Linked DNA regions of Homo sapiens. The protein of the gene in region 3 interacts with the protein of the main gene of each other region in a pairwise test. Each region holds a gene or a part of one and is shown on either strand. Other genes may lie near its edges.

The links. Proteins that work in one complex are often made in the same cells at the same time.
Region 1: the proteins of TTC19 (region 3) and MXRA8 interact in binary tests that used the Homo sapiens proteins (3 or more experiments, as listed by UniProt).
Region 2: the proteins of TTC19 (region 3) and FTO interact in binary tests that used the Homo sapiens proteins (3 or more experiments, as listed by UniProt).

Annotation. Positions count from the first base shown.
Region 1 is NC_000001.11:1,355,556-1,363,139, forward strand, and holds the start of MXRA8 (matrix remodeling-associated protein 8 isoform 2 precursor), read right to left. Parts: upstream 3,001-7,584; 5' UTR 2,950-3,000; coding exon 2,901-2,949; intron 1,150-2,900; coding exon 1,126-1,149; intron 198-1,125; coding exon 1-197.
Region 2 is NC_000016.10:53,699,722-53,707,155, reverse strand, and holds the start of FTO (alpha-ketoglutarate-dependent dioxygenase FTO), read right to left. Parts: upstream 3,001-7,434; 5' UTR 2,972-3,000; coding exon 2,927-2,971; intron 1-2,926. Other genes in the region: RPGRIP1L (protein fantom), read left to right, coding at 6,433-6,517.
Region 3 is NC_000017.11:16,023,478-16,030,288, forward strand, and holds the end of TTC19 (tetratricopeptide repeat protein 19, mitochondrial isoform 1 precursor), read left to right. Parts: intron 1-1,539; coding exon 1,540-1,694; intron 1,695-3,062; coding exon 3,063-3,225; intron 3,226-3,896; coding exon 3,897-4,045; 3' UTR 4,046-5,927; downstream 5,928-6,811. UniProt on the Homo sapiens protein: Required for the preservation of the structural and functional integrity of mitochondrial respiratory complex III by allowing the physiological turnover of the Rieske protein UQCRFS1.

The DNA.
Region 1 (7,584 bases), on a different chromosome or scaffold from region 3:
GTCCAGCAGGCGCCGCGCGGGGCCACCCCCGGGGCCGCGCAGGTCCCAGTGGAGCACGCGCTGGCGGTCGTGCAGCCGGTCCTGGGTCCACACCATGCGCGGGCTCTGGCAGCGCAGCACCGCCCGGGCGCCCGCCTCCCAGCTCACCGCGGACTCGGACACCACGGAGCTGCCAGCAGCGGCGGGTACCGAGGACCCTGGTGGGGGAGGGGAGTCGGTGGGGGAAGGGGTGGGCCCCCTAGGGCCCTGGTTGGGGGAGTCAGTGGGGGAGGGGCAGGGCCCTGGTGGGGGAGGGATGTCTGTAAGGGACGGGCAGGACCAGAGGGCCCTGGTGGTGGAGGGGAAGTCCGTGGGGTGGGGCAGACCCCCGAGGGCCTGGATAGGGGAGGGGGAGTCACTGGGGGAGGGGCGGACCCTGATGGTCCTGATGGGGGAGGGTGAATCAGTGGGGGAGGGGCGGGCTCTGAGGACCCTGGTGGAGGAGGAGGAGTAACTGGGGGAGGGGTGTGCCCCAAGGACTCTGGCGGGGTTGGGGGCATCTTTGGGGGGGTGTGGGCCCCTGAGGCCCCTCGTGGTGGGGGAGATTCCATGGGGGAGGGGCATGCCCCCTAGGGCCCATGTGGGGGAAGGGGAATCATTGGGGGAGTGGTGGACCCCCGAGGGCCCTGGCAGGGGAGGGGGAGTCCATGGGGGAGGGCAAGTCAGTCGGGGAGACATGGGGCCCAAGGACCCTAGTGGGGGATGGGGAGTCCATGGGGGAGTGGTGGGCCCCGAGGGCCCTGGTGGGGAAGGGGACTCAGTAGGGGAGGGGCAGACCCCGAAGGCCCTGGTTGGGGAAGGGGAGTCAGTGGGGGCATCTGTGGGGGAGGGGTGGGCCCCCGAGGGCCCTGGTGGGTGTGCGGGAGTCTGTGGGGGAGGGCCAGGCCCCCAAGGGCCCTGGTAGGGGAAGAGGAGTCATTGGGGGAGGGGGAGTTATTGGCAAGGGGAGGTGCCCAAGGGTCCTGATGAGCAAGGGGGAATCAGTGGGGGAGGGGCAGGGCCTGAGGACCCCCGGGGGCTGGGCCTGGCAAGATAGGAGGGGCTGAGGGGGAGTGGGGGTGGGCAGCTGGGGCTGGGGTCACTAACCTGAGTGCAGGAGAACAGCAGAGCCTGGAAGGAGAGGAGTGAGCTGGAGAGGCCACCCACAGCCCCACCCAGCCCCGAGACCCCCCACTTGGCCCCCAGAGTCCCTCCTGTAGTCCCAAAGTGGATGCTGTGACACCCACTTCAGTGCAGGGAGGACGCCTCTCACACAGACCTACATAGCCCTCCCTGCCACCGTGCTGGGCTTTGGATGGCACCTGCCCTTGAGTGGGGAAGCCAGGGCATGGGCGTGGGCCAGGGCCAGGCTCCAAGCCAGCCGGTTCTGGGGTGTGTGCTTGTCACCGGGGCCACTCCACCTGGCTGCACCCAAGTCACCCAGAGCACCAAGGAGGCTGGATCTGTGGGTTCCCCCACGCTCCCTCCAGGGCTGTGCCCCAGCCCCCGAGGGTCCTTGGACCCTCAGACGCTGGGGACCCCACACCACACCTAAGGCTCAGCGCAGCCCCTGAGGTGCTTCCGCAGGGCAGAGGCCTGAAGGCTGAATGTGGGTCGTGACCCCGGCTGCCGCCCCACAGGCCCGCGTTGCTGCTTGAGGGACTCTCATTGTCGTAGGCCGCCTCGGCATCCACTCTGAATCTAGGCTGGACTTTCTCTGACCGGAAGCGGGGCTGCCACCCGGGACAGTTTCCAATTCACATCCCCCGTCCTCGAGCTGATCCACCCAGACGCCCGCCCTACGCACTGTCCCCTGGTGACCACCCCCTGTGTCCCCACAGACCCCACGCCCCACATGGACTGTGCAGCTGCACCACGGAGTCCCCCCACAGTCAGCGTGGCCCCACGGGGCTCGTGCCGCTTGCCTTAAACCCACCAGTTAAAACTCCCCCACCAGGCATGGTGGCTCACGCCTGTAATCCCAGCACTTTGGGAGGCCAAGGCAGGTGGATCACCTGAGGTCAGGAATTCAAGACCAGCCTGGCCAATATGAAAAACCCCATCTGTACTAAAAATACAAAAAATTAGCCGGACGGGGTGGTAGTGGGCGCCTATAGTCCCAGCTACTTGGGAGGCCGAGGCAAGAAAATGACTTGAACCCGGGAGGTGGAGGTTGCAGTGAGCCGAGATCACGCCACTGCACTGCAGCCTCCTTGGCGAGAGAGAAACTGCCTCCAAAAAAATTCCCTGAGGGAAACCTGTATGCAGAACGCCCTGATCCCAATAAAGGGTTGGCCTGGGGGTCCCTGTCTCTCTCCACTTTCCCTGGCCTCCCAGCAGTCTGTGCACCCCAGGGCCCGTGGGTGATAAAAGCTGTTTCTATCCTGTGTCTCTAGATCACTGGGGGCTGCTCTCCCTCACATAGATCCTATGTGAAAACTGCCCCAGAGATGTGGCCGAGAGCCTGGGAGCTTCCCAGAGGAATGTGCCCGGTCAGCAGCCAGCCCAGGCCTGGGAGCGGGGGCTGGAACAGACCCCACAGTTCTCAGGTCCCCTTCAATCACTGACCCACTCCCTAAACAGAGCCCCAGCAAGAGGGGCTGCAGGAGGGGCCCCGAGGGAGACGCCGCCGTGCCTGGGCCCCCAGCCCTTCTTGGCCCTCTGGGCTTCAACTCCCTAGGAGGGGAGGCTGGCCAAAGTCTAACTGAAGACGTCACAGCCTCTGGCAAGCGGCTCTCCCGAGCGCCCCCAGACCCGTCCTCTTCCCTGGTGGGACCTTCCCACTCCTCCTGGCCCAAGCTCAGATGGGCGGTTTTGTCCGAAACGGACTCGCACAGCCCCACGTGCCACCCCCCACCCGCCTCCCAGGGCCCCACACTCACTCTGCAGAAGCACAAGTTTCCAAAGCAGGATTCGGGATGGCAGCGCCATGGCCCCCGCCCAGCCCCAGGCTTTGTCCCACTCGGCTCTAAGTCTCTCTCCAGAAAAACAGCCCTACCCCCTCCCCCTCCTTAGCACCCGCGGTGACATCACGGAGGCCTGGGCCTGTCTACGGTCTGGGGACCGCCCCCTCTGGCTCCTGCCGGGCCCCTTGGCCTCCCCCATCGTTGCTGGCCTGCTGGGGAGGGGCAGTGTGGGAGCAGAGGCCCAGCCCCTCACCGGTCAGGCCTGGGGAGGGGTGGTGACCGCACCCTTGGAGGGACAAGAAGGTCCGAGGACATGGGCCCCTGATACCACGTGATCGTGTCTCACGTCTAGGAGCCTCCCGGGCCTGTGGTGAAGGGTTGGGACTGTTGGGTGAGTGGCCCCTCCGCCCCACCTCTGGCCTCCCCCCACGTGAGCCACCTCAGGGCAGGGTCCTCCCCTCAGTCTGCTCCAGGCCCCAGAAAGGCCTCCCAGCGCTGAGACCGCCCCCACCCACGGTGCACGCTGGTGCTCTCCTTCAGACCAGATGGCCCTTCCAGCTCCAACCCTTGGCCCTGCATGACCTTGGTACCCGTCTCCTCTGGGGGCCACGGTGGGCTCCCTTGGGCCAGGATGATGGACGCTGCCAGTCACTAGTCCCCTTTACAACCTGGAGAGTCAGCCAGGGACAGGGGACCCTGAGCACTGGGAGGCCTGGGGGTGCTGGGGTGAGCAGACCTCTCCCTGCTGGCCCCGTCCCCTGGGGCTGCCCGCCTTTAGGGTGCAGCCTGGTGTCCCTGAAACCAGGTGCTGGATTACAAGCCTCCTGGAGAAAGGGGAGAGTGGGACCCCTGCCATGGAAGGCACAAATTTGAAACTGTGGGAAAACTTACAAAGTCACATAAACAAATGCGAAATAACAGCCTGCACTGTGTAGCAAACCCAACTCCTTCTAATCAAGCAAACCTCAAGAAAAAACAATCTGAACAACCACAACCACTAGAAACCCTCAGTGCATAGTTCCGCCCGCCCACTTGGAGTGAGCTCTCCTTACAGGCCCCGAGGGCCCCAGCTGGGTGGGGGGCTCACCCCTGAACCCTGCTCTGGTGCCCAAGTCCTCAGACAGTGGGAAGCCCAGTGCAGATCAGAGTGGTGGTCTCAGGGCGAGGGGAGGGGAACCTGCGGCTGCTCCAGTGAGAGGAACGGGCAGGACACGGACCGGCGTAAGGACAGAAGACCCCACCCCACCCCAGCCCGGTCAGACCCATTTCCTCAGCAGGGTCCTGGCCCGGGCGGCGACCTTTCCAAACTGGCTTCAGGGCTGAACACATCCCGCCACCCCCACTCCCTCCCTGGGCCTTTCATTCTGGAAAAACAAGCCCCACCTGGCTGGCCTCGAGGCCTCTGCTGGCCTCTCCTCCTGTTTTTCCAACTGGTTTGTATTAGTGCTGGCAGCTGCCCGCCCGCCCATGTCTGTCTCCGTCGCACACTCTGGGGCCTTGGCCTCTGCAGTCTCTGTCTCCTTCCGTCACTCTCCCTGTTCCCTCTCTCCCCATGGAGGGAGGACGGACAGCAGTTTGGTGGGGGGACAGGGTTGGCCCTCGGGTCTGGGAGGGCCCGGCTCTGGGTGCAGGGCTGAGAGGGGCGCCTGGTCCGCACGACAGCCTCAGGCCAGGGCTCGCCTCACTCTGCAGGGCCGTCCCTCTCCGGGCAGTGGCCTCCAGCCACACTTTCGGGGACCCAGCCAGCGGAGATGCAGGCCAGAGGCTGTCGTCTGAGAGGGCCCTGACCTCTGAGAGGGCCACCTGGGGGCAGCTGACCCCCATGGGGCCCTGGGCAAGGAACAAAAGGCTGATGAGGCCATCAGGCCCCTTCCCTGACCCTCCCTGTCCGGCCCTCAGTGGGAAACAGCCACAGAGAAGAGCAGGCCTGGTAGTGACCAGGTCACCTGCTCCTCCCAGGGCCAGTGACCTGTGCCTCTTCTGCACCTTCCTGGGCTGGGACTGTGGAGCCTCTGCTCGCTGGGGGGTGGTCTGCAGAGCTGTGGGTGTGTGACTTAATTCCCAGCCTGGCCTGGCATTTTTCTCCCTCTGGGAAGAGGACAAACCAGGACAAAGCCACTGGCATCACTGTGCTCTGGCTAAGCCCCCAGCCAAACCAGCGCCCTGGACCGTCCTCCTAGCCCCACCTCTGGGGGTTGGGGTGGAGCAAGAGGGGTCAGCTGGCCCCACGGCCCGCACTGAGGATCTGATCTTGGCTGCCATTCCTGGTGACTCGGACATTCCAGGCAGCCCGTCTCATTGGGAAGAAAAACCACAGGCACTCAGAGCCACAAGCAGCACAGCCAAGCCCATATTCACTCCCATGAGTGTGCACAGACACATGCACACACACACAAAGACACACATGGAGACACACAGAGATACACACGCATGCACACGAAGACACATGGAGACACAGACACGCATGCACATGAAGACACGGAGACACACAGAGATACACGGAAACACAGACACATGCACACACGCGAAGACACAGACACATACACATGCATGCACATGAAGACACGGAGACACAGATACATGGAAACACGAACACAGACATGCGCACACACGACACACATGGAGACACGCATGCATGCACATGAAGACACACGGACACACAGAGAAGATACACGGAAACACAAACACACAGACACAGGTCCACACACAGAAACAGAGACACACACAGACACACATGGAAAGACACACACAGAGACACGGACCTGTGGCCGCACAGCGGATCATCGATGGCTGAAGAGTCCCACTTCCTGTCGTTCAGAAGCGTTTGCTGACCACCTCCTGGGTGCCAGGCTTGCTGGGCACTGGGGACTCAGCACTAAGCCGGGTGCCAGCCATGGCCCTCTTGGACCCCAGCCTCCTGGACTGTGCTGCATGTGGTGGAGGGAATGAGACAGGGGTCGGGGGGCGCCCAGGCTGGAGGGGCGAGGACGGACGGACCCAAGGAAGCAACCTCTGTGACAGCAAATGCCAGGCGAGGCCTGAGGACGCGGCTTCCAGGCGCAGCCAGTGGCGGGGCTGCCAGGAGTGGTCTTGGGACGCCAGGGACCCTGTGTGTGTGGTAGGGGGGCCACTGCTGACACCAACACAGACAGGGTTAGGCTCGAGGACAAACCGTATTCGCCGCCGCCGCACCTGCCACGCACATCGGAAGCGTTAGCACAGTTTTCCCTGCGTGGGGCTGGGTCTCCTACCCAGGCTGAGTTTCTCCCCTCTAAGAGGAAACACCGCCAGCCTTCTTTCTCCTACGGCCTTTGGATTCTGAAAACTCGCTGTGGGGAGGGACGTGAGGCTTCGGCACCAGGAACCCCTGCGGGCTAAGACGGTGTTGGCCAATCACATCCAGTCACTCTCCTGGGAAAGTCACTTTTATGGAGACAGCCCCCCAAGGGGGTCTCAAGATATATTGAAGTTTTGGTTAGTTATGTATGCTGACTAAATTTACAAGTAAACTTGTTTATCAAAAACAAAAGAAAATGTGTTAATCCGTTATAGCCGCTTGTGGCGACTGTTCCCGGCCATGTCCCTGGCTGACTGTTTTCCTGCTGATCCTGACCAGCGTCCCCGGCAGCCATGGCCTGCATTCGTGTTGGTCCCTCCTCCTGCAGCCCCGAGGAGGCAGGGCTGTCTGTGGATCCCAGATCGGTTGTCGGAAGGCCCGGAAGAGGAGAGCTGCCCTCCACCACCACTGTCTCCTCCTCCTGGACAACAGAGTCAGGACACTGCTGAGATGGGGTGAAGCATAATTGTTGCACTGAGACTCAAAACTACAGGCAAGAAGGTTTGAAAATACAGAAACATTTCACAAATCATCTGCCTCCTCTCGAGTAGTATCTGGCTTGTTCTAAACATGCAAATGCAGTGAGACGGGCTGCCTGGTACACACACATCGCCCCGGAATCATGACCTTAGGCCCCAGGGCCACCTTCTGTAATTTTTTTTTTTTAAGCCACAAAGTCTCGGCCAGGCAAGATGGTTCACGCCTGTAATCCCAGCACTTTGGGAGGCCAAGGTGGGCAGATCACCTGAGGTCAGGAGTTCAAGACCATCCTGGCCAACATGGTGAAACCCTGTCTCTACTAAAAATACAAAAAATTAGCCAGGCGTGGTGGCAGGTGCCTGTAGTCCCAGCTACTTGGGAGGCTGAGGCAAGAGAATTACTTGAACCCGGGAGGTGGAGGTTGCAGTGAGCCGAGATCGTGCCGTTGCATTCCAGCCTGGGAAACAGAGTGAGACTCCATCTCAAAAAAAAAAAAAAAAAAAAGGGTTGGGCGCGGTGGCTCACATCGGTAATCCCAGCACCTTGGGAGGCCGAGGTGGGTGGATCACAAGGTCAAGAGATGGAGACCATCCTGGCCAACATGGTGAAACCCCGTCTCTACTAAAAATACAAAAAATTAGCCAGGCGTGGTGGCAGGTGCCTGTAGTTCCAGCTACTTGGGAGGCTGAGGCAGGAGAATCACTTGAACCTGGGGGATGGAGGTTGCAGTCAGCCGAGATTGCACCACTGCACTCCAGCCTGGTGATAGGGCGAGACTCCGTCTCAAAAAAAAAAAAAGAAAGGAGTGAAACCCCATCTCTACTAAAAATACAAAAATTATCC
Region 2 (7,434 bases), on a different chromosome or scaffold from region 3:
GCCTCATCTCCAGAACTGTAAGATAATAAATTTCTGTTGTTTTAAGCCACCAAGTTTGTGGTAACTTGTTGCAGCAGCCATAAGAAACTAAAACAAATGGTCAAATCACTTCGGAAAACTGGTAATTTCTTCATAAGGTTAAACAAAGAACTCCCCTATAACTAAGCAATTCTACTCCTGGGCATTACCCGACAGAAATAAAAATGTAAAGACTCTTAGGTGAATGGTCATAGCAGCTTTTTTTGACAGAAATGAAAATGGAAAGACTCATACATGAATGGTAAAAACAGCTTTTTTCATAAGAGTCCAAAACCAGAAACAATCCTAATGTCCAGCAACAAGTGAATGAATAAACAACATGTGGTATCTCCATACAGTGGGCCACTAATTTGCGATAAAAAGGAACAAATTATGGATACATACAACAACATGGATTAATCTCAAAAACCATTATGCTGGCCAGGCACAGTGGCTCACGCCTATAATCCCAGTACTTTGGGTAGCAGAGGCAGGAGGACGGCTTCAGCCCAGGAGTTCCAGACCAACTTGGGCAACACAGCAAGACACCATCTCTATTTTGAAAAAAAAATCATTACGCTGAATGAAAAAAAGACCCAAAAGTATACACTGTATGCTTCCATTTATATGAAATCTAGAAAATACAGATGCATCTACAGAGACAAAAAACATATCAGTGGTTGTTTGGGGGCCAAGGTGGAGGGACAGACTAACCACAAATTAACGAGAGGGAACTTAGGAGAGAAATGTTCGCTATGCCAACTGTGGTGGTTTTGCAGGTATATACATTTGTCAAAAGGCATCAAATTGTACACAAAAATGGTTGCAAATGACTGTATGTAAATTATACCTCAATAAAATTGATTAGAAAAAGAGAAGATAATTCATGAGCCATTGGACACTTTACATTTAAGATTTAAAACAACTACTTATACTTTGTTCTAACAAATAATATTAAGCAAACAAATTTTAAATGAACAGCCAATTTTTTAAAGAAAAAAGGAAGACAATTTGCTCTACTAATTCAACATGTTTCACAAGCAGAAAATGGGAAAAGCCTTGAATTTGGAGTCAGAAGACCTGGCTCAGAGCACTAGTTTCACCTAGCAACCAAGTGGCCTTGGGCAAGTCACGATTTACCTACAAGTCTCAGTTTCTAAATCTCTAAAATATGGATGACACTAGTAACTCCCTCACAGGCAATGGTTATGGTTTCAATAGAGTAAGAGCTTCTTTGGTGCAGTGATTCTATTTCAGCCAAAATTATAATCCCAACTTATGGCAAATAATAGGTGCTCAACAAATCTTCACAGAATAAATGAAATACTTTAAAAATAAACCTGAAAGATGAGAAAGACATCATGCACAACACCATGAGGTGACATTTGTTTCTTTGCACTGTGTAGACTAAAGCAGAAGGGTCGCCCTCTTTGTGCTTATCTTTAATATATTATCCACATCATATGCAGACTCAAGCATGAAAACTTCTGGTCCCTTACGAAATACTGCAATAACTCAGGTCAATATAGAGCAGATTTTATATTTTAAATCCTTAGGTGTATTGCCCTAAACAGACTCACGTGTAAGATGAAATTCTATGAAAGCAAGAACTGTGTCTACGTTATTTAACACTGTTATTCACTGCCAATATTTGCCTAACATAGAGTAGGCAGCAAATGACATGTGCAAAGGCCCTGAAGCCCGATAAAGTATAGTGAAGAGTGACTTTTAAGAAGGCCAAAGTGACTGGTAGGCAGAGAGCAGAGTGTCATATCCAATGGGGTTGTGAAAGCAGGTAGGGTCCAGATCATGCAGGATCTTGTAGGCAATGTGAAGTTTTGCCTTTATCCTAAGAGCAACAGAAAGCCATGGAATATTTTTAAACAGGTGGTTGGCAGAGTAAGGAGAAAGGAAAGGGACATAATTATATTTGCATTTCACGAAGATCTTACTCTATGGTGTGCAGAAGAGAATGGTAGTTGAGGGAAGGGAGAGAAGGTGGAAGAAGAGTTAAGTTAGGGTGTAGAGTGAGTGTAGGCCAATCAATAGGCTATTCCAACAGTCTATTAAAAAGATAATGGTAGCTTGGTCCAAGGTAGTGGAGATGAAAAAAAAAAAAAGTGGGCATATTCCCAATATACGTAGACAAATCAACAGGATCTGAGTTTGGGAATGAGAGAAAGGAAAACACTCAATGCTTCTGAGCCTCAGTTCTTCATCTGTGAAGCTGGGCTGTTATTTATACTCCATCTGTATAATATCTATCTTGCAATCTGCTGTGACAATGATATGAAATAATTTAAATATTATGCACTTAATACAGTGCCTGACCCACAATAAATGCTTTTTAAAATCTCTGTTGCCATTATTATGGTCATCCCATGGAATGGCAACTACCAGAAGCTGAACATCAAAGGTAGAGAGGAGCAATGTAGTTAAAGATTCATATCCACAGCGCTAAAAGACACAAACTGTTATCAGCCGGTCACGGAGACAATTGTTCCAAAGAAACACAGCTGACTGCACAGATATTTCATCTAAGCCGATCTCAGTCCTCAGAGACCATTATGAGAAAGCACAGCTGGTATGATCACAGTCATCTGAGAATCCGGTAAACTGAGGCACAGGGATGGCGACAAATTTAACCAAGGAATAGATGCAGAAGAAGGACAAGGAAATGGGTATCTTGCTTCTCATTTTTGAGCCGATCCAACAAGACTCGGCCTGCATCCTGAAGAGCACGAATTTGTAACATCCCCTCTAATATCTCCAGGTCCCTTGCTGACAAGGCCCTGTCATCCCTTAGTTTAACACCGCGCATCCGCTCGCCATCAAACCAAGCCCTTCCGGTTCCCTGATCCTTGCTCACAGCGCACGAAGATCTCCAGGCCCCGGGAGCCCGACATACCTTAGCTTCGCGCTCTCGTTCCTCGGCAGTCGGGGTGCGCTTCATGCTGCCACTAAAGCCGCCTTCGCCACCGCAAGCTGCGTAGATCCCTCGCCCTGGACCCCGCCTCCTGCATGTAGTTCTCTCAGCGTCCTGCTCCCGTCTGGAGCTATTCTCCCTCTGAGTAGAAAAAACTACAACTCCCAGGATGCACCGCGGCGACACCCGCGAGCGCCACGGGATTTAGCACAGGAGAATTTCCCAGGTCCGACAGCTGGAAGAGCGTAGTCCGCTACCCCGCGAGCAAACAGGCTAGAGTCCAAGGAGAACTACATTTCCCAGGAGGCTACGGGAGCCTGCCATGTTTCTCCCGTGCTCCTCTCGGCCAGCCGCCCGCCACGCTGTCGGCGCTATAGCAACGGTAGCTAGCTGCAGGGCCAGTGGCACGGTGAGTACCCGGGAGGATGGGGGAGGATGAGGGTGGGTGGAGGTTGCTGACCCTCCCCACTGCAGCGCGGGCCGGGGTCCTAGGGTCCGCTCTGCCGCCTGGAGAAGGCCCTGGAGTTGGCCCTGGAGTTCTGCTGGCGTGAAAGCAGCCCAGCCCAAGACACCTCCACATCCTCAGGCCTGAATCACAGGCCGCCCTTTATCCCCACGTCCAGGACCAATTTGAAATGTTATATCCCAGCCATGAAGGTGAGAGTTGATGCTGCTAATTGCCATCTCTATCCAGATCCTGCAAGTTGTAGGTCCCTAACACAGTTTGCTCATTTGCCCTGGATTAGGAGTTGGTTGGTAGACCCTAAACCTCCTGAGTGGTCTATTGTTTGCTTAATTATATATTATTTGTTTATCATGTGATTACCTCCATAACTTGCTAGCTTCATAAAGGCGGGGGTTTTGCTTGCCATTTTAATCTCAGTACCTGATATTCATTTATTCATTCAATAAATATTTTTTCTTTATTCTTTTTTTTGTGTGTGTGACAGGTTCTTGCTCCGTTGCCCAGGCTGGAGTGCAGTGGTAAGACCTCAGCTTACTGCAAACTCCTCCTCCCAGGTTCAAGCGATTCTTCTGCCTCAGCCTCCCGAGTAGCTGGGATTACAGGCGTGTGCCACCACACCCAGCTAATTTTTGTATTTTTAGTAGAGACAGGGTTTCATCATGTTGGCCAGGCTGGTCTCGAACTCCTGGCCTGAAGTCAGCCGCCCGTCTCGGCCTCGCAAAGTGCTGGGATTACAGGTGTGAGCCACCACGCACAGCCAATCATTCAATAAATATTAATGTTGGTTCCCACCCTGTACCAGGCACTGTTCCTGAACAGTTGTGAACAAGACTAATACCCGTCTCAAGATGTTTATCCTTTTTTAGTGGAGACAAACAATAATTTTATCTGATAACTTCAGATAGAGGCAGTTGCTATAAGAGATACAAGCCATGCTTGGTGGCACGCACATGTAGTTCCAGCTACTCGGGAGGCTGAGGTGGGAGGATCACTTGAACCCATGAATTCAAGGCCAGCCCGGGCAACATAGCAAGACCCTGTCTCAAAAAAAAAAAAAAGAAAAGAAAAGAAATAAACAGTGAAGAAATGTAAGGAAGACTACTCTAACATAGGATGGTCAGGGAAAACCTGTCTGAGGAAGTGAACTGAGCTCCAAAGATTAAGGAACCAGCTAATACAAAGGCCTTGAGCAAGACAAGGGTATGGGGGGTTCGAGGAAAGTAAAGAATAATGTAAGTGAAGCATAGTGAGCAAAGAAGGATAACATAAGATGGTGTTGGAGAGGCATTGCAGCATTGTGCAGGGTTTTTCAGCTTCTACACTATTATTAACATTTTGGGCTGGATAATTCATTATTATGTCTCCTAAGCACTGTAAGATATTTAGCATCATCCATGGCCTCTACTCACTAGATGCCAGTAGCATCCCGCTTCCTTGTTGTGACAACCAAAAATATCACCAGACACAACTATTAATACTTTCAACTACCACCTTAAGTGAGTTAACTAATCTGTGTCTCAGCTTCCTCATTTGTAAAGCAGGAATCATTTGAGTAACAGCCTCACAAGGATATGGTGAGACACTTCATTCCTATAACAGAACACTTAGAACAGTACCTGGCACATAGTAAGCGTTCAATGAATGTTAACACCATCATCATCATCATCATCATTATTATTTTTAAAGTGACCTTAACTCTGTCATGGAAAACTAATCATTTTCATACACGGGCCTATGTGTCAACAGGATCCTAAAAATTGACCTTTTCTATAGGAGTACTTCCAAAAGAAGTAGATGATCTCCCAAGGATTTGTCTGTTAGCTGTTTCTGTAAAAGCAAAATGCAATGGTTCTCCACCATTTGCGAGTTGTAATAAAAGTTATGAACCCTCTTTAAAAGATATTGCATATATACATATACATACAAAATTTGGTAAACCATCTCTGGGTTCACAGACCCTGAAACCCCATGGACTCCATTCACTCACTCAACAACTATTTAATGAATGCCTGCTCTCAGAATGCACCACGCTCTATGCTAGCCTCCAAGAATACAGAGCTGAACAAGACAATGAAGCTTGCTACTGTCTTGGTCTTTACATTCTAGAACCAATATCCTAGAGCTTAAGAACTCTGCCCTTTAGAGTATCTTCATTCACAGTTTGCATGTAGCTTACTAGGTAGATTGAAATGAAAATATAAAATCCTTTATTTTTGCATACTAGATATTGTGTGGACCACTCACATCCATACTCAAAATAGAGTTACTATGGTGTATTTCTGTAAAGAATAGAAACTACAAAAATACTAGAATTAGCTAGAGAGCCTATATGTTGAAGTAGTTGAACCCTGGGTGAGACCTAGGCCTCATGGCAACAAAGGCAAGACACACACACAAAAAAACACAAACCCAGTTGGTAAATTTATGCAACGAAACCTCTTTCACAAAACTCACAAAATGCACAGAACTGCCCACTCATTTGTACATCAAGCAGACAATATTTGAGTAATATTGACATCCCAGGCACATGTGATCAGTGCTTTTAATTTACTCATCCCATTTACCCTTAGAATAACTCTCTGAGATAGGTATTATTTTCTCCATTTTTAAAACTGAGAGACTGAAACTCAGAGAGTTTAGGTGGCTTGACTAGTTTGTTAATGATAGAGCAACCATTTGAATCAAGTTCCTGACCTGAGTTTTTTCCAAGATATCTGCTTTCTTTTGGAGGCTGGGGAGAGGAAAGGGATGGAGAGGAGGTATTTCTTAAATGATAATCTTACTTCATTTCCTAAGCAAACTATAGGAAATACACTGTTGAAAGGAACACTGTCTCCATGACTGAATGTAGTAGTACTATTAGAATAGAAGCTTTCATCTTCTCCAAGCAGCACATGTGGACAATAAGATGCCCATTAAAGTTCTAGTCCCTTTTTCGTTTTATTTGGTTCATTCCATTGCATAGTTAATGTAATAATTTGGAAAGAGTTTATTTGAATTTTCTTTTTTCCACAGCTAGGCCATGTCTGGTCCAACTGATGAGACTGCAGGAGACTTGCCTGTGAAAGATACAGGTCTAAACCTCTTTGGAATGGGAGGGTTACAAGGTATGGCCAGCTGTTATTTATTACAGTTATGAACTTTGATCACTGACTACTTTTAATTTAAAGTATTTCTTATACTCATACAAACCAAACCATTTAAGTAACTATATAGTCCTTGATTGGACTAAACAAAAAGATGGAGAGTTTAGAACACATATGGTATTTTACTACATGCATCAGTTATCAACAGCTCATAGAAAATGTACAGTCCCCCCTCTGTTCTGATAAAGAATTAACATAAATCATCTTTTTAAAATTCCTCACATCAGTAGAAACTACATAGAGAGTATCAAGCCTCCAAACTGAATTGCCTGGTTTAAATTACATTCAGTGTTAAAACATTTCTTTGTGTTTAAATTTTATATGGGAGGAAAGGCCGTATTTTAAGTGTTTTGCCTTTTAAGTGGAATATCTCACATGATAGTGACTTTTTTATCGAATTAATATGGATTAAAGGTTTTCTTTATCCTTTTATCACTTAGTAGTTGCTGTAGAGCTAAAAAGCACTTTCAAATTGAGAAAGAAAAGCACTACTTTAAAGAACAATTTAGAACAGAGAGCTGTGTTTATCTTTGTGTGTCCATTGTGTCAGCTATGCTGTCATGCATGTATCGATTATCAACAGCTCATAGAAAACGTAAAATCCCCCTCTAGCCTGAGAAGGCTAGGGATTTAAGATACATTCCATTTAGGAATCTACATACACTTTTCAATCAGAACAGTGTAAATGGCCACTGTGAAAACCAGAAAAGTGGTCAATGTATTGTTTATTGAAAAAGATAAAATTTGGCTACACAGAAATTTTTTTTTTTTTTTTTTTTTTTGAGACGAAGTCTCGCTCTGTCGCCCAGGCTGGAGTGCAGTGGCGCGACCTCCGCTCACTACAACCTCCGCCTCCCGGATTTAAGCGATTCTCCTGC
Region 3 (6,811 bases):
TTAGTAGTGGTATTTCCATTTACAAAATACAGTAATTCTTGATCGCTGAAGACGTCAAATCCTAGAAAACATAGCATGCCTACGCGTGATGTTAACATCATTCTCGAATAGTTGTTGGTTGAAGATTCATTTGATGAATCCGATTTTTCAGAAATAGACGAGTCTGATGATACAGACGATTCTGGTGTTAGTTCTCTGTAGAAATAACTCCAAGAACACTTTTAATAGTTTATTTTCACATTGAAAATCAGATTTGCTCCAGCCTCAAAGAGTATATTTATGTAAAATTAGGTAAGCGATATAGAAGCAAGCTGCACTTTTTTTCTAAATGGGAAGGTATTAAAAAAGAAAAGTCTCATTTTAGTAACATAGTCTTCCTTAAACTCTATGCCACTTGTAAGATTTCTGAAAACTGAAGACATAGAAGGGAACGGGCTTGATATGAACGACAGCTTTGCTGGTAAATAAACCCAACTGAACCTAAGATTATCTAAGGTAACCTCTTTTTCTAGTCTTTTATTGTGTGAACAGTTACCTCCTGCTGAGTTGTTGGCAGAATTTCCATATAATCTTGCTTATGACCATTTCTACATTATTTGTATCATCTTTTAGAAGTCTTACCCAGGTTGATATAGGTTACCGTTCTCTAGATCTGTGTCTCCAATTCTTCTTACATGGCATTAGGTATTTTAAGCTTGTTTTTTTTCAGACATCGTATAGTCAATTCTTGAATGTGTTGAGAGGTGCTATGTCATTGTAAGCTTTATTCTTCTTCTCTGAATGATTAGCTTGTTTAAATTTTACCTTAAATTCTTTTTTTTCTTTTTTTTTCTTTTGAGACTGAGTCTTGCTCTGTCGCCCAGGCTGGAGTGCAGTGGTGTGATCTCGGCTCACTGCAAGCTCCACCTCCTGGGTTCACGCCATTCCCCTGCCTCAGCCTCCTGAGTAGCTGGGACTACAGGTACCCGCCACCACGCCTGGCTAATTTTTTTTTTTTTTTTGTATTTTTAGTAGAGACGGGGTTTCACCATGTTAGCCAGGATGGTCTCAATCTCCTGACCTTGTGATCCACCCGCCTCGGCCTCCCAAAGTGCTGTGATTACAGGTGTGAGCCACCGCGCCCGGCCTTTACGTTGAATTCTTTAAATTCAGCTTGTGACTTTGCACTTCAGGATTCTGAGTGTTCTCTGTCTTCTTCCTGCATTGTTTTTCTTATACCATACAGGTTTTTCATTGGCCTTGACTTTTTGTTGTTAACTCATTCTTCTTTGGGTTTATTTTCATTTGTTTCTGCTGAATATTATTTGTTTCAAACTAAAAATAACATTCCACATTTTAATTGATGTGCGGACTCTTAATCTACTTAAAATGTGGGCTGAAGTTCCATGATTCCAGCTAGTCTGGAATAGGTCATTTAACTGGATGTTAATTCACCTACATTGTTCCCTAAGTGACATGTGGGTCCCATTCTGCTGACATATTTGTGGGTCCTGGTAACAACCATTTGGGTAGATTTGCTGATTCCTCTTTTCTCCTTAGTGGAAGAGAAAGCCAATACCCACCTCCTCTTGGGCATGTGCTTAGACGCCTGTGCTCGCTACCTTCTGTTCTCCAAGCAGCCGTCACAGGCACAAAGGATGTATGAAAAAGCTCTGCAGATTTCTGAAGAAATACAAGGAGAAAGACACCCACAGGTAAGGGAGGAAAACACAGAAGGGGGAATATAAAACAAAGGCTTCAAAATTGAAGGGTGTGAAATGTCACACTCATTGGTAACAGGATCAGCAGATGGTCCTAGATCCTCCTTGGTCCCCAGTCTACTCATTTTCTTATCACCAGCACCCTCACCCCAACTACTTGTTTCAGAAAGGATTTGAGACTAGTTATCAGTTACTAGGTCTGCCCAGAACTTTTTGCATGATCCATGGTTTGCACAACAGAGCAACCTTTCTACAGAGCAGGACTGGTCAGGCTTCAATGGACACAGCACAGTATTTCAGAGTGGGGTCTCTAGATACCCCTATTAGAAGCTTATGAGGAACGGTTTAATACACAAATATCCTTGCCTCCCTTGCCCCACAGTTAAAATGGCAAGAGGTGAGGGAAGGGCAAGGGACCACATTAAAAACACTTAAACCATTGGCATATTATAGAATTTAAGTATAACGTGTAAAGCTCTGTGTTAGAACATTAAACACATTGAATTGAAATCATCTCTTTGGGTCTCCCCTCCATCCGAGTAAGTTCTTAGATGTAAGGAGTGCATTGCTTTGTCTATGAATGCTTGCTACTGCCAATATAAGACATAACAATTTTAACTGAATGTGTCCCAAGGCTGGGGTACATGGGTAGGGTGAGTAATATGTTTTGGAAGAAAAGGGAGGTTGAGCTATGAATTATCTCCATGAAAGGGATTTATAACTTATTATGAAGAGTCCCTTAATGGAGTGAGGAATAATAAACAAGCAAGTACAGAATTCAGATCTCCAAGTACTAGAGTCAGGGGGCTTAAAGCATGGCATCAGTGGGGAAGTAGGTATGGAAGTCTACCTCTTCCATACTGAAATTCCATTTCAGTAGCCAAATTAAAAAAACTCCTACTGGGCATCTTCCTAAAATAGATGGTGTATTTCTTGTTTTTGATGAGCCTCAGGGTTATCAGCAGGAACAACATAATACAGTGGGGCTCCAGAGGCAATCAAACCATAGGAGGCTGGCTTCTCAAAGTTGCTCAGCCTTAAAGGAGATAATATGTGTAGCTTCTTGCTGTTGTTTTTCATTTGGTGCTTCTAACTGGGTAATTAGTTGGATTAATAAGCACTGTCTGTTACCTAATTTCCAGATTTGTATTATTTCCCAAAAGGTCGAACTAACATTGTCCACTGTACAATGTGATTATGATTAACAAATGCCCACAAATTTGTTAAAGAATGGTATCCCTCATCTTTTGTGGAATGCTAGGAAAGATGAAATCTTATGTATTCAGAGTTGGATGCACTCCACATTAAAGTTCTGTGAAGGCATGTTTTTAAAGAAAAAATTGTTTTTTCTTTTACATACAGACCATTGTGCTGATGAGTGACCTGGCTACTACCCTGGATGCACAGGGCCGCTTTGATGAGGCCTATATTTATATGCAAAGGGCATCAGATCTGGCAAGACAGATAAATCATCCTGAGCTACACATGGTACTCAGTAATCTAGCTGCAGTTTTGATGCACAGAGGTAGGTAGCAATGTAAACTTAACTGACTTGCTTTAAGGGAGGGATGTCACTGGATTGATAGATTTGTGAAGTGGTATGTAGGGAGGGCAAGGGCCAACGAATAAACATGTAAATTAAAAGACTGGTTGAATGGCAGAAAAAGGAGGTATTGATTAGGTTGAAGTACTATTGTGTTCAATTCACGTAACTTCTACAGACCTGCACTAGCCTGTCGAACCCCATCAAGCTGGAGAAAACCTTGCAATGATAGTACCTTACGTCAGTAGTGCTTTACAGATTTCTAAATGTGTTCAGTTACAATGTGTTTCTCACAGTGTGCTGGTGAAGCTTTATGACAGGAAGTATCATTTTGTCAGACATTTCTTAGTGTCAGCACACTATACCGATCATTTTCAGAAACCTGGGATGACAGGTGTATTACACATACCACCATTCATGAAATCTTGGGCTCATCAAAGTCCTCAGGATATACTGGAAAGGGCCGTTAGGAATCCCACAGCATTCAGTGGAGTTCCAGCCTGTCAGATGGGGATGAAATGAGGCAGCACCAGCTTGTCGCTTCATAAGCACACAGTAAATTAGCCCTATATCTGCATTCATGCTCTCTCTTCAGAATCACCTTGAAAACATACACTTTCTTCTTACTGTCCCTTCTCTCTGGGTTATTTTAGAACGATATACACAAGCAAAAGAGATCTACCAGGAAGCACTGAAGCAAGCAAAGCTGAAAAAAGATGAAATTTCTGTACAACACATCAGGGAAGAGTTGGCTGAGCTGTCAAAGAAAAGTAGACCTTTGACAAATTCTGTCAAGCTCTAAATCCATTTTTGTGTAGGGAGAATAATGTCTAGTAATGTGGAAGAATAGCTATCATTCCTGTCTCTGTGGCACCCGATCAATGGCTTAAATCTGTCGTTTTTGATATTCAGGTTTCCTCAATTTAGCCTTAGTGAAGGAGGGGTTGTACACACTGCCATTTTTGTATTTTAAAGGAAAAATGACTTTCATTCCCAACTGATTATGACCTTTCAGGATGTCGTCAAGTGATGCTTTCAGTTGTAACACGTGACTTGGTGCTGTCCCTGCTGGTCTAAGTAGAACTGTAGATTCATATGGGCTGGTGTTCCTGTGCGCTGTGGGTGTGGTGATTCAGCCTGGCATTTCTACCATAAGTTTTTGGTCTGCTGATTTGCTGCCCTGTCTTCTCTTACTTTACTTTATCAATACCTGGCAAACTGACCAGAATTACCTTCCTCATGGCAAAGGGGGATTATGGTGAATTGTTGTTCTTATAGTCTGTTTCATGAAGCACAAGTGGAATTTAATACATAAAAGAGAAAAATATCTTAGTTTGCTACCAGCATCCAGCATGAAGTTGTAAAGTGGGGATTAGGCACGTGACAGTATAGCACCCATTTGAATTTAAATAAAAGTGAACCATATTTATCTGGTTATATAAAACTAAAAATGGGGGTGTTTATATAAAACTAAAAACTAAGAATGATGTAACCTTTTGTCTGTGTTATCTGAACACTCTACTTCCTTTGCAGCCTTAGTCACACAACTGAGTCATCTCAAGTACTCTTTAAGGACACACAGCCCAGGCTGTTCTGAGTCAGAATAGGCCCCTACAGGTATATTTTAAAACTCTTCGTAATTCTAATGTGTACTGCTGGTATAGCTGAACTACTGACCTGGATCTTAGTCCTAGCCTTTTTGCTTTTGCAATTTCAGTATCTTCATCTCTAAACTAGGGAAACACTGGGATTCTTTCTTAGCTGTGGGGGAAGGTATTTGGTTAGATGACTTTGAATGAATAGACTGCTGTGCTGAAAGAGCTTTATCACACTGTCTCAAAGTATGTAAAGATACATAGGTGGATGCTCTTACTGCAGCAGTCATGAATACATTTTTAGCCATTTACCTAAGGAAAAAGACAGTTTTTCTAGGTACCATGAAGGAAGATTGACCCTGTTGGTATGCCTGTGGGGGTGGGATGTGAGTGGGACTGATAAACTGATACTTTTGGTTCGTATGTACATACTGGAAGAATCTTCATAATAAATGAGACTACACAACAATATTGTATGTATCCCAGTAATCTTTGCATTTCTCAAAAAAAAAAAAAAAAAAAAAAAAAAAACTTTCTGAAGAAAATAAAAACACCAGAAACCTTGAGGTCCAAATCCTCAGGGATTAGACTAAAACTAGAGTTTTGTATGTTGCAGATGTAAATTTCTTCCTATTTTCTGTCTAATCTCATATTATTTACCATGCAGCTAATGCCGTTTACCAAGTCTAGCTCAGAGAGATAAGATACAATATAAATCAGACTGTTTCAGTAGAAACCAGTATTAACGTATGGTGATTTCTTAAAAAAATTAATGTCAACCACTCACCTTTTGCATTGAGAATGTTTTTACCTTTTCACAACTGCAGGGGTTACTGAAAGGTTTTTCATTCCAAGTTTTATTTATTTATTAATTTTAAATCATCCACAGTGACTCAGCTCATGGTCTCGTTGTTGGAAACACTAGGAGTTTTCAGGACAGTCTCTTCATGTGGGTGTTTTCATTACAGTTCATTTACACTGTTGTAAAATAAGGTACTGAAGCAAAAGGAGGACTGATCTCCTTTACTGATTGGTCTAAATTCAAAAGTGAATTGGTTAAAATCGTGTCATTAAAATTTTTTAACTGTCCAATGGTCACTGGAGTTTTCTGGGCATAAATATTTTTAAAATAGAATCACTCAGTGTACCAAAATTAAAAGCATTATGAAATTTGCAGTCATAAACATGCAGTGGAAAACTGGCTGTCAGAATACTTTTATGAAGAGTATTAGGAAGACCTTAATTTAGTTCTGGGTGCTAAAAAAATCACGTGTAAGGATATAGTGTCAGAACACTGAAATCTAAGTCTACAAAGAATATCATGTTTTGGTTTGCAGTGAACCACAGTAAGTTGTCAGTGCTGCTCTGTGCTTACCACTTAAATCATGATAAGGTGAACCTCCATAGGTAAACCATGTGAGAATTCTGTCCTTTCATTTATTTTGAACCAAGAACTATTATTGGATTTTAACTCTCATTCTGAGATTTCTTCTCCAGGTGATGGTAAATAAAGTAATACGCACATGCATTATGATGAGGATGGAGGGAGTGGTTCACAGCACCTCACCTTCGGGTCCTCAGGTAGAACTGCAAGAGTAAGAAGTTAGGCTCTGATCTGACATGTTCTCAGAAACTATACGGTTGACCTTCAAATAATGCAGGAGTTAGGGGCATAGACCCCCTAAGTAGTCAAAAATCCACATCTAACTTTGACTCCTCCAAAACTTAACTACTCATGGCCTACTGCTGACCAGAAGTCTTACGGATAACATAGTCGATTGACACATATTTTGTATATGTATTATATACTGTATTCTTACAATAAAGTAAGCTAGAGAAGAGAAAATGTTTGTTAAGATTATAAGGAAGAGAAAATATATTTACTATTCATTAAGTGGAAGTGGATCATCATGAAGGTCTTCATCCTTGTCATCTTCATGTTGAATAGGCTGAGGATGAGAAGGGGTTGGTCT